3 linked regions of the Homo sapiens genome follow. The protein of the gene in region 3 purifies or fractionates together with the protein of the main gene of each other region. This does not show direct contact. Each region holds a gene or a part of one and is shown on either strand. Other genes may lie near its edges.

What was found.
Region 1: the proteins of CA8 (region 3) and POF1B purify together in Homo sapiens (affinity purification with mass spectrometry; 3 studies listed by BioGRID and IntAct, with this or other methods). This does not show direct contact.
Region 2: the proteins of CA8 (region 3) and FGG purify together in Homo sapiens (affinity purification with mass spectrometry; 3 studies listed by BioGRID and IntAct, with this or other methods). This does not show direct contact.

What each region holds. Positions count from the first base shown.
Region 1 is NC_000023.11:85,373,071-85,376,726, forward strand, and holds part of POF1B (protein POF1B), read right to left. Parts: intron 1-3,656. UniProt on the Homo sapiens protein: Plays a key role in the organization of epithelial monolayers by regulating the actin cytoskeleton. May be involved in ovary development.
Region 2 is NC_000004.12:154,610,408-154,614,163, forward strand, and holds the start of FGG (fibrinogen gamma chain isoform gamma-B precursor), read right to left. Parts: upstream 2,250-3,756; 5' UTR 2,203-2,249; coding exon 2,125-2,202; intron 2,029-2,124; coding exon 1,984-2,028; intron 1,795-1,983; coding exon 1,611-1,794; intron 1,492-1,610; coding exon 1,398-1,491; intron 1-1,397. UniProt on the Homo sapiens protein: Together with fibrinogen alpha (FGA) and fibrinogen beta (FGB), polymerizes to form an insoluble fibrin matrix. Has a major function in hemostasis as one of the primary components of blood clots.
Region 3 is NC_000008.11:60,271,303-60,274,958, forward strand, and holds part of CA8 (carbonic anhydrase-related protein), read right to left. Parts: intron 1-3,656. UniProt on the Homo sapiens protein: Does not have a carbonic anhydrase catalytic activity.

The sequences.
Region 1 (3,656 bases), on a different chromosome or scaffold from region 3:
CTCTAATGTATTTTTGATATTTTCCATTCTGATAATGGAACATTAGAATGGGAAAATATACAGTAAGGGTAATCATCAAATGTTTTGTTGAAATAAAAAATGTGAACTAATTTAAACTGAAATCATGAATATCGAAAGTTAATTAAGGGAGATAGCTGATGTAATGAAAATATCAGGAGCTGGTTTTTAAACTCAGGGCATTCACTAACCAGCTGTACTAAATAGGCAAGTTATTTTGAGCTATTCGAGTCTCAATTTCCTTATTTGTTTAACAGATAAATAATACACAATGAATATTGTCTTTATTTGTACATCGTACAATTTGTACAATAAACATAATAATGCATGTTTTATCTAATTGTTGAGGTTCTATCAAGTTGTTTACTAGATAATCATATACATGGAAGAGTTGTGAAAAACAAAAAACCCATGTATTAATATGAAATATTATTTTCACTGGATTGATTATATATGTGACTAAGTTACTAACTTGCAGTTTCTTTACTACTTATTGTGTAGTGGCATTGAAAGAGATACAAATGATGTTAGAATATAATCTCTACCCTCTCATGGTTATAATCATGTAGGGCATAAACACTATGAGTACAAATAGGAATTAAGTAGACTATCATAAGACCTATAAGAAGCTCACTAGGTAAGTTTTGAGGGCTAAGAGATAACTTCAACCTGGGACAATCAGAGGATCAGAAGGTTACACTTGAGGAAAGGCTTGAAAAATTTGTATAATTTCAGGGTGTCTAGATTGGTGAGGGTGAGGAGCAGGAGCAGTTCAGATGTAAGAGCAATGGAGTGAAAGACATAGCTGTGGAAAATTGGGGACTTTATTTAGAGAACAATCATTTACACTTAGCTAAAACATAGGACACCAGAAGGAGAGTTCCAGGAAGTTCCACAGGAGCCCTAACATGGAGGGCCTTGAAAGTCAGACTAAGCAATTTATAGATACTTAGTGTCATTGAAGGTTTTTGCAGCAGAGGAGTGATATGGGATGTGTATAGGGAATTTAAGCAACTTTTCTAGAGAACATATTCTTAGGTGTAATTAAAGTTGTGGAGATTTTAAAATTAATATTCCTAGGGACTCCAACTAGACTGCTTCATAGTTCTATTCTGCCAAAGTTCACCTCATGATTGCATATTTATTTACAGCTCTTCCTGAGACATTCCACATAGACCTTTTTGGGCATTTTCTTCATACAATTTTCTCTGCAATTGGTCTTTAGACTGCAAAATCTGAACCTCTTCAGTCAAGACCTGTTGGCTTCATTTTCCTGTTGATAGCTGTGGTCAAAGAGCTCAAAAGCCTGGTGTAAGACATACAAGAAAGACTGAAGGTAATGAGAATTAAATCATAGAGAATATTACATACGTAGTGCAGGCTTTGTTTCTAAATATTTGGAAACTTGCTAACATGAAAGTATAACTCTTTATGTTGTCTAATTTGAATTTTAAAACTTTACATAAAGACTAATATACAGTATAATATTCCATGAAGGAAAACCATGGAAGGTTTGTGTATGCTCCTGTTACTCCCAATGACTATGAGAATCACTGAAGGTAATAATGGTGAGTTACAAATACTCTAGGCTGAACAGTTTCAAAAGAAGCAATATCTTTAAAAACCACCTGACATTTATGCTGACAGAATTTGCCAAGGCAAACCTCCATTTGAATAAATTCCCTGAATAGTATGGGAGATGTTTTTGTTAGGATCTTTCAAAGCCATGTAACATAGTTAAACACCTGTCTGAGGTTATTGTTGAGATGTTATACTCAACTTATATAGCAAGAAACATGTTATTTATAATAATCTCTCTTTAGATGAAATAAACACTTCTTTGATTTAGGATAAAATCTGTGTTTCTGTTGTCATACAAAGAAAGCAACCGAATGTATAATAGAACTACTTCCTGTTCCTCCTTCTCTCCAACCCAAATCCCTCATTTAAGAGGTCCATATTGGGTTCTTTCTCTTCTTTTTCTGAAGAAAACTAGGAGACAGAGAGAAAATAAAATACACAGTCTTTTTTGCAGTGCATGCTTTCTGTCTTTAAAAATTATGAGTATATATACTTTATTGAAAATCAAAAAATGACCTCTACTGGGATAGCCCCTGGTCTGAAGAAAAAGTTGGCTGAAATATATTTATTAATAAAAGTTTTAACTTTTAAATAGGGCTTAAGAGCATGGCAAATTTCCCAATTGTTTTGTCATGAATTGTCAAGAAAATAAACTTGAAAGGACAGTTTCCCTCTCTTCCACTTGCCACCCTCATATCTTGCCACACACACACCGTGACAGCTTATGAGTGCCTTTGACTGAAAACAGGCCCAGCAATTTATCAGACCTCCGTTAAACAAGATACAATTGCCATGGGCATTTTCACTCAGCAATTAGTTGCACTCTCCAATTTCTATAGCTTCATTTAATTGTAAGCACAAAAGAGGAGACCAAAGCTGAAAATGCAACCCCTTTATCCTATGACCTCATTCTTTTTTCAGGCAGCGCACTTCCTTGAACAATCATTCACTTTAGTGACTACGCCCTTGAACAACAATTTATCAAAGCAGCACACCCCTCCCCACAGAACGGGAAACTTTTCTGATAGTGGAAGAGAAGAGTTATCCACAATCTTTGCAACCAAAGAAAAAGCACAAAAAAATCATATAAACAAAGGTAAGCCCCAGCTGAATAATTGTTGAGAACAGAGGTCATTCGTAAACACACATTTTCCCCCAGGCTGCTCTCTAGAGTTTCTTTGCAAGTTTCAAATTCAAAAGAATGGCAACCCTTATAACATATACACTAAAATAATCCTTCTCTCACAAAAGCATGTTTTACTTGATAAAATGCTGATGGTCACAACACAAAATACTCCTTTAAAATGAAATATAGATAGACACATGGGACACCTACAGACCAGGCTCTGTATGTCTGTCCTAAAAATGAACTCTCCCTGGACAGGTTAATGGTATTTATCCAGAAAATCACAGTGTTTGCTAAAAAATAGGCACTTAATAAACATGTATTCAGTGAATGACTGGTATTTAAAAATATTTTATTTTAATCCATTTTTTCTCTCTCACATTTTTTCTCTCTCATGTATACAGCTGCTCTGTATGCATGAAAAATACCTCGAACTTCATGAAAACCTTAATTAGTGGAAGGAAAGAATGTTAGCCCAATGAGTAATTCATATCAATGTTGCTCATTTAAGGCATTTCATTTTGAGTTAATGATGGTAGGTTAACAGCTAAGCTTTGTAAAAGATTGAACTAAGAATTTTTGTTTTACTTTAAGCTTCTAGAACTCTATTTATTTGCAAGACCACATTCAGTTCTAAAATGCATCTGAGACCTTGATTATATCTGTGTTTGACTATACGTGTTCATGCAGATAAACCCAGTAATTTTAATTCTACCATTAATTTAGAAAATTTCACCAGCAACTGGTTTCTACACTTAATTTTCTCTGAGAAACACTCTATCAATCAAACAAAATAATAACCAAAAAACATAAAATATATGTTTAATTAAAGAAACAAAGTAACATTATATATCTAGATAAATTTAAAATATGTTTATATCCATAAACACCATTTTAGTGCACAAGAGGTTAAGAGAATAAAAGCATGTAC
Region 2 (3,756 bases), on a different chromosome or scaffold from region 3:
TCAAAAAATCAATTAAAACAGGAATACAATGTGGACCTGAATCTTTTTACTTAGAATGGGGCATATTGTCTCAACTCCCAACACAAATAACAAAGTCCTTGTCAATAAGCAAATGTCATTGACATTTTGCTTTTTACTTTATGCATAAGGGACAGCAGATAGCAACCTGCAAGAGTGGCGGGACTGGTTAATAGGAACACCCCCTGATGCTTTAGAAGCAGGAAAAGCTCAGTTCAGTAATTCACATGTGCTGAAGGAGTATACCTTTCACTTGTGGATCTACTGAGGCTATACATATAAGCTTCAATCTAAAATATAACTTACACAGGGACATGATCTGGAACGTTATTGTATGTAAAATAAAACAACAGATACTTCCCCTTTCTTCTTTAATGCTTCTGGTTACATAGCTTTGGGAATGGACTGGGGGAAGTAAAAACCCTCCTTTTGTAGTTACTTACAGGGTGGCTTGCAAATATCCAAAAATGATAGAAAACTGTCTACAATGCATAAACCGTTCTTTCTTTGAAGTAAAAAAGGGTAGACAAACTATTTGTCCACGTTTTCCCTCTACCTTGTCTTAGGCAATTTCTGTACAATAACCTCCTTCAACTTCAATGATGGACAATAATAATGCAAGTAATAATAATAACAATAATAACAAGGGCCCTCTGATAGCAAAAAGAGGAGAAATCTTTCCTGGGCCACTTCTCCCTAGCTACTATTTATCTCAATTTCTCAAGCTGCTTTGAGAAAAATTCAGAAAAAAAAATTGGGGAAAAATATTAAAACTGTATCTGAGACCTTATGTTCAGAAAGTTTATGAGTCCCTGAGAAGCTTTAACAGAGACATTCACTTCCAAATGAAGGGAAGAGACTATGCAGGTTCATTCTGCAATGATCAATATGAGCTTTGCAATATTTGCCACACTTAGTCTCTCAAGACATGTTTCTTCCTGCTCCACATTCAATATAATTTACTTTAGGAGCCAAAATCCTTACTATGCCTCTGCTTGCTAATTTTTTTAACCACCAATTTGTCAGCATTTTTATAAAGAGGATTTTATTTTCAACACCCAAATTCCTATGAGATTGATTTTATGTTGTAAGATAAATGGGGGATGGGGAAAAAATTTTTGATAAATATGGTCAAACTAGCATTTGAAGACATCTAGAACATCTTTCTTCAATGTGATTATTAATAAGCAATTATAACCCAGTATAATTTATATTGCACTAAAAACTTCTATCTCTACTATGCTCAACATAATCAGGCATAATGTCACTGGGATATTATAAATGGGGAAAACACATTAAAAATTACTTTCACTCAAGTATAGAATATTAAATAAAAACTAAATCAGTCTTGCAGAGCAAATTAAAACAAAAATCCTTACCGAATACTTGAGTCATGTGTTAAAATCGATGCTTCATATTTCATAATTTCTTCTAACATTTTCCTGGACTTCAAAGTAGCAGCGTCTATCATATCTGTAATATAGGATCAGAGACATAAAAATCCTTAAGCAAATAGAACAACTAAAACAACAGCAAAAGAACTTCACAGATTATTATTATTATTTTTTGGTCAGTAGTCTTTATTTTCTCACTTGGTTTTGATGATTCATCAGGATTATAAGTGAGTTGGATTGCTTTTATCAGCTGTTTGACTTCTGATGTTTTGTTTTCAACTTGATGTAAGATGTCTTCCAAAGACTGTAGATCCTTGTCTACTTTGGTTTGATAAGTAGACAGGAAATCTGCAATGCCACAGGTAGTTGGACAATAACTACCCTGAAAATATAACAGTGATTAAAAATGTAGACAGATGCTACTCTTAAAATCTATTAAGAAAAATAGGTAAAACCTAGACTATGTTTTTAAAAAGTTACAAGTGCCAGATGATATTTATGAGGGAATTATTTCTATTCCTCTGCCCCTCTCCAGTTCACACACAAAGGGAGAAACATAAAAACTACTTACGAATCTTTCATCTAAGATGCAGCAGTTGTCTCTGGTAGCAACATACTAAAAGAGAAAAAATACAGAAATTTCACTAGTTTATTATCTGTTTTATTTTCCAGCTTTCCATTTTAAACAACGTTTTGTGAAGAGCACACTTACTGCTACACATGTTGAAGAGAGAAATAAAAGAGCATAGAAGTAGAGAATTAAATTCCGGGGGTGCAAGGACCAACTCATGATGTCTGAGTGCCCGGAGCTCCGAGCCTTGTAGTGTCAGCACTGTCACCTCTCAGGCTCCAATTGTCCCTTTATGTAAGCTCCTGGGATAGCCAGGACTGCAAATGGCTGGAGCTGATCACGGGGCCTCCTTACCAGAAGGGTGGGCAGGTCTTTCCCGTTCCTTTTTCCTCATCCTGGCCCCCAACCTATACTGTCAGGTTCCCAGATTTTGCACACAGGTTGAAGCTCCTCCTTTTTGGCCCAGCTCAAGGTTTTTTCTCTGATCCAAAATTATCTGCAAAGGCTAGTGAAGCATTATCCATTGCTGTGAGGAGGAGGGCAGTCCTGGAGGCTGTGTGATGCAACTTCTTCCAGTACATGGCTGAGAGCAAACAGATATGACCTCGAACTAAGCAAACCTAGTCTATCCTTAAGATGGGTCCTGCTGCCATCACCTGAATTACCAAAAGAACTTTCTTAGCTTAGGGATCAGTTAACACTATTATTTTAGCCTAGGGATCAGTTAACATTATTATTTTTAATCTGTGGCTGTGGCAGGAGGAGACTGACTTCCCCCATGTCCCAGTTCACTATTCCCAGGAATGAATGACCCTGGAAATACATTCCTGTCCCTCTGTGTCAACCATGTTCATAGGCTCTCACTTCTCAGGGAGCTTTTGAGCTCAATCTTCCCTTTGTCTGAAGGTGGGCATGGCACCCCATCTGCCACAGAGAAAAGAGCCAGGAGCCCACTTCATTGTTCCTGTGGTTCCATCAAGCTATCTCAGAGAAGAGAAAAATCCACCTCCCTTGTATCTAAGGAGAGTAGAGGCATAGCTGAAGGAAGGGGCAAAATGAGGTGCTGGGGAGGGGCCATCATTTCTGTTTGGCCCTTACAGCATCCTTGTGTTTGGGAAAACATGTCTGTCATCACTGCCTATTGAGATTTATCACTGGGCGTTACACTATTATTAATGTCTCTATTTTTGGTTATCCCTCATTTCTTCCTCTGGAACCAAGCTTATTATAAGTTTTGATGAAATATGTTAGTGGGAGAAATGCCTCCAGTTTGAAAGAAATACTAATACTTTAATTCTGTCTTTACAAAGGTATATTTATTGACTCAAAAACAAAGATAAATATTCATATTCAGTAAATAATCAATAATTATAACAAAGTGAACACATCAAAACCAGATTTGTTGCTTTTCTTCTCCTCCTTAATATATCCCTCTCTGACTTAGCAGTTATTGTCAATCATATCACCATACCACCAGCCAATTAAGTCTCACAATCTTTCTCATCCATCTTTTCCACTCAGCTAATCAGTTGTCAATCAAGTCAGTTGAATTAAACATTTAAGTATTAGTATTCTTTCAAACAGCTCTACCTCAGATAGCATTTGTAGCAACCTTATATTATATGTATACATGCTGTATCCACTGCATTAGATTGTAAACTGATTTCTGTGGCTACGGCATCTAACATATATAGCTGTACTTAACATAGTTGTAGTTAACACTCAATAACTATGTAATGACTTGAATCAGTTGCCTCTGTGAAGAAGAATGGG
Region 3 (3,656 bases):
CAGCGTGGCCAACAGAATGAGAGCCTGAAAAAAAAAAGAAAGAAGAGAGACAGAGAGAGAGAAAAGAAAGAAGGAAAAAGAAGTTCAGCCCTGACATTTCATATAAATAAAAAAGATAGAGCCTCTTCTTCAGTGAAAATAATTTTTAAGATATTTTTGACAATTTCATCTTTAAATCAGCAAGGTTGCCAAGAAACACTGTTAAAAAGTTGCCATGTTTGGGGGGGAAAAGTAGGATTAATAATCATCATCATCTATCCTAAAATTAGTATTGAGAATTACAAGAGACCCAGAAATAAAATATCCTAATTAAAGTTTCTATAATAAGAAACAGTGAAGGGCACAAATGACCTATCTTGATTGGCAATTTCTCCCATAATGATGGTTGATTAAAAATGTCATTACCCTTAAGACATTGCTTGTAGTCAGCTGGAGTGACACTACTGCACAAGTGTGGGCAGTCTCACACATTTTCTCACTACTTAAGTATCAAGCCACTCAGGCTAGAAATCTGTAATTATTTTTTATGCTTACAATCCTCTTTATACCACTGCAAAGATGTTTAATTTTAATTTGCCTGTGTACCTTAAATGTCAAGATTCCTGAGAGACAGTGACCCACTTGTCCTGCTGAGAAGCTAAATGATACATGTGGCAGCCTTAATAAAATTCTCCATGCTCTAGGAGATAATAGGACCAATAGTCTGGTCAGATCACCCTGGAATGTGATGCTTGCTTCAACTCCATGTTAGGAGGGAGGGACTCTGCTACCTTGAAATTTGCCCAGAGCAGAGGTAGAATAGTGACAGGATCTGAAACCGGGGGCTCCATCCAAGCCATCTCTCTCCACTGATCTCCTCCACATCCCTGCTCCACATAACTGACCCATGACATTCTGTAGATTGCATCGCAGAGATCACTCCTGTGTCTTCCCCTCCTTTTCCACTGACACTGCAATGCCTGTGGTTTTGGTTGAGTCTTTTGTACTAACCTTCAAACTGGCTCACACTCTCTCCCAGATCCCATCTCATTCAGTGCTGCCAGCTTGATTTTCTTAAAGCAATGTTCTAATTATGACTTTATCCTACAAAAAAAAAAAAGAAAGGTTCTACTCTTTAGCCTCTGTGCAGAGTCCCTCATGAATTTGCTCCATAATACCCTCTCTATTCTATTTCCTGTTAACCCCCTTTATCATGAACAAATCTCTTCCAGACATACTGAAGGATTGGCCTTTCCTCATACAACCTCTAGAACTTTCCATATCTTATCCTTTGTGCAAGCTGTCCCTTCTTCCCACACACCTCAGGCTCCCCATATCCAAATGCTATTCATCCATCAAGGATTATTTCAAATGCTCTTTCCTCCACAAATCCTTCCCTAAGAATTTCCACCAAAAATAATCTCTCCCTGTATAGCTATAATATATTCCATGACCTACCATTGTATCCTCCTTGAGGGCAGGCTTTGGATCTGATTTATACTTACCTTATCCAAAGCATGTAACTGTTTGCAAAAGATGAAACAAAGATTGCCAACCTCACCCTGCAGGCCAGAGGAAACCAATGAACACGTATGTTTAGTTCACAGGTGCACATCTCCAGTTTCTCCTGACACATTAAACATCTGGCAAAGTAGGCCTGCTCTCTGCAGCTTGCCAGTTCCTGCAGTCCCCACCAGCCCCTACTGTCTTGTCTATTGACACTGCAGATGAAGCAGAGGATCAGTAGCTATTTACAATCTCTTGCTCTCCTGGTTGCTCTCATGTATAGTATTATATCTGCCTGGGTCTAAAAGACAAGTGAGTCTATAATTCCCATAGTAAATTATCAATAAGTAAGTATTGAAGGATGAAAGGCTGTCATGTGAGCAACAGCTGAAAGAACTAAGAATGTCTGAAAAGAAAAATGGCAACTGCATGTTATGACTGCAGTATTTGAAAGTGGAAGTATAATTATATTTGTTCTAAATATGTCCAGAGACTTAAAGAGAGACAATGGCGGAGATCATAGAACTTTTTGACTTTTGGAATTGCTCAAAAGCAAAATGGGTTTTCTTGTGAGAAATGGATTTCCTTCCCTGAGCTATTCAAGCTGCCCACCCACCTGCCAGGGGTCTGAGATGGGAGGCTACACTGGCCCATGCCACTCAGAGAGCCTATCACTGTGGCTCCTTTTCTAAGCTCCTTTGCTCTCTTATGGGGAAAAAGAAGACGAACAAAGTAGCACACAGTCTATGCAGATGCACTGCTCATGGGGTACATGCAGGAGAAGAGGGTTCAGAAGGAAACCTTAAGAAACCCTGTTATTTAAGCACAGTGGAAGATGAAGCACCAGCAGAGAAAAGGCAGTCAAAATTAGGAAGAAGTGTCAGGGAACTGTGTGGCCCAGAGACTAACAGGAGAGAAAACTTCCAAAAATTCCATTTCCAGTGCAGCAGAGTTAAAGTCCTGTAAGAATATAAAAATGCCCATTGGATTTAGGGGATGATGAGTTCATCAGTGACCTTGGCTTGAGAAGTTCCAGCAGAGAGGGATGGGGGCAGGGGCTCATGCCCCTGAAAACCCTCAAATTTATATTAAGGCAGTAACTCCAGATGGGATTATATATACAGGAACAATATCATTACAATTATGTTAGAAGTTTTAGTTTGATAAGTTTAAGCATTTAAATTATACTACAACTGTTCTAAACCTTTTTGGCAATTATTTATGATTTGTTAATATAAACTAAGCAAAAATAAAGAATAAAACAAAATAACTGAGGCCAAAGACAGCCTCAGGGAGGGCTGAGGTTTTAGCACAGTGGTGGTGTGAAGTCAGCTTTAATTTCTAAAAAGAACTGTGCTTCTTGTGTGGATTTTTTTTTTAATTTAAGAAGACAGCCCACTGTATTTGCAGGGGGTACCTCCAGTTAGACAAGGAAGATTGTACTCAAAACATTTATCTGCCCTCCCTCCTCAATTCTCACTAAATGAAGAGGGCACAACTTGCCAGAGCAACATGAACAAGACTGGAGAACAAGAGCAAAAGAGAAATGCCCAAAATAATGGGCGGCGGTAGGGGGGTGGTGCTGGAAAGCAGACAAAGGTAGTGAGTGATTCAGCAAAAAGAGAAAGCTAAAAGCTAAGTAACTACAGGAAGAAGGCCACAAGAGGCAGGTAATTCCTACCGCAGAACCCAGATGCTATGGTTTGAATGCCTGCATCCCCCTCCAAAATCCATGTTGAAACTGAATCCCCAATGCAACAGTATAAGATGTCCAGGAGGTGATCAGGTAAATCGGATGAGGGCTCTGCTCTAAGAATGGGATGAGGCTCTTATAAAAGGGCTCCAGGGAGCCTGTTTGACCCTTCTGCCTCATACCATGTGAGGACGTAGCACCGAAGCACCATGTACAGAGCAGAGGAAGAGCCCTCACCAGACACCAAATCTGTCAGCAGCTTGATATTGGACTTCCGAGTCTCCAGAACTAGGACAAATAAATTTCTATTATTTATAAATTACCTACTCCACAGTATTTTATTATAGTAGCCAAACAGACTAAGACACGAGAAAAGACTCAGGAGGTGGAAGCATTAGAGATACTTCTGAATGTGGCAGTGCAAAGTAGGAAACTGAAAACAGAAAAACAGATTTAAAGTTTTTAAAAGGAGCAGTTA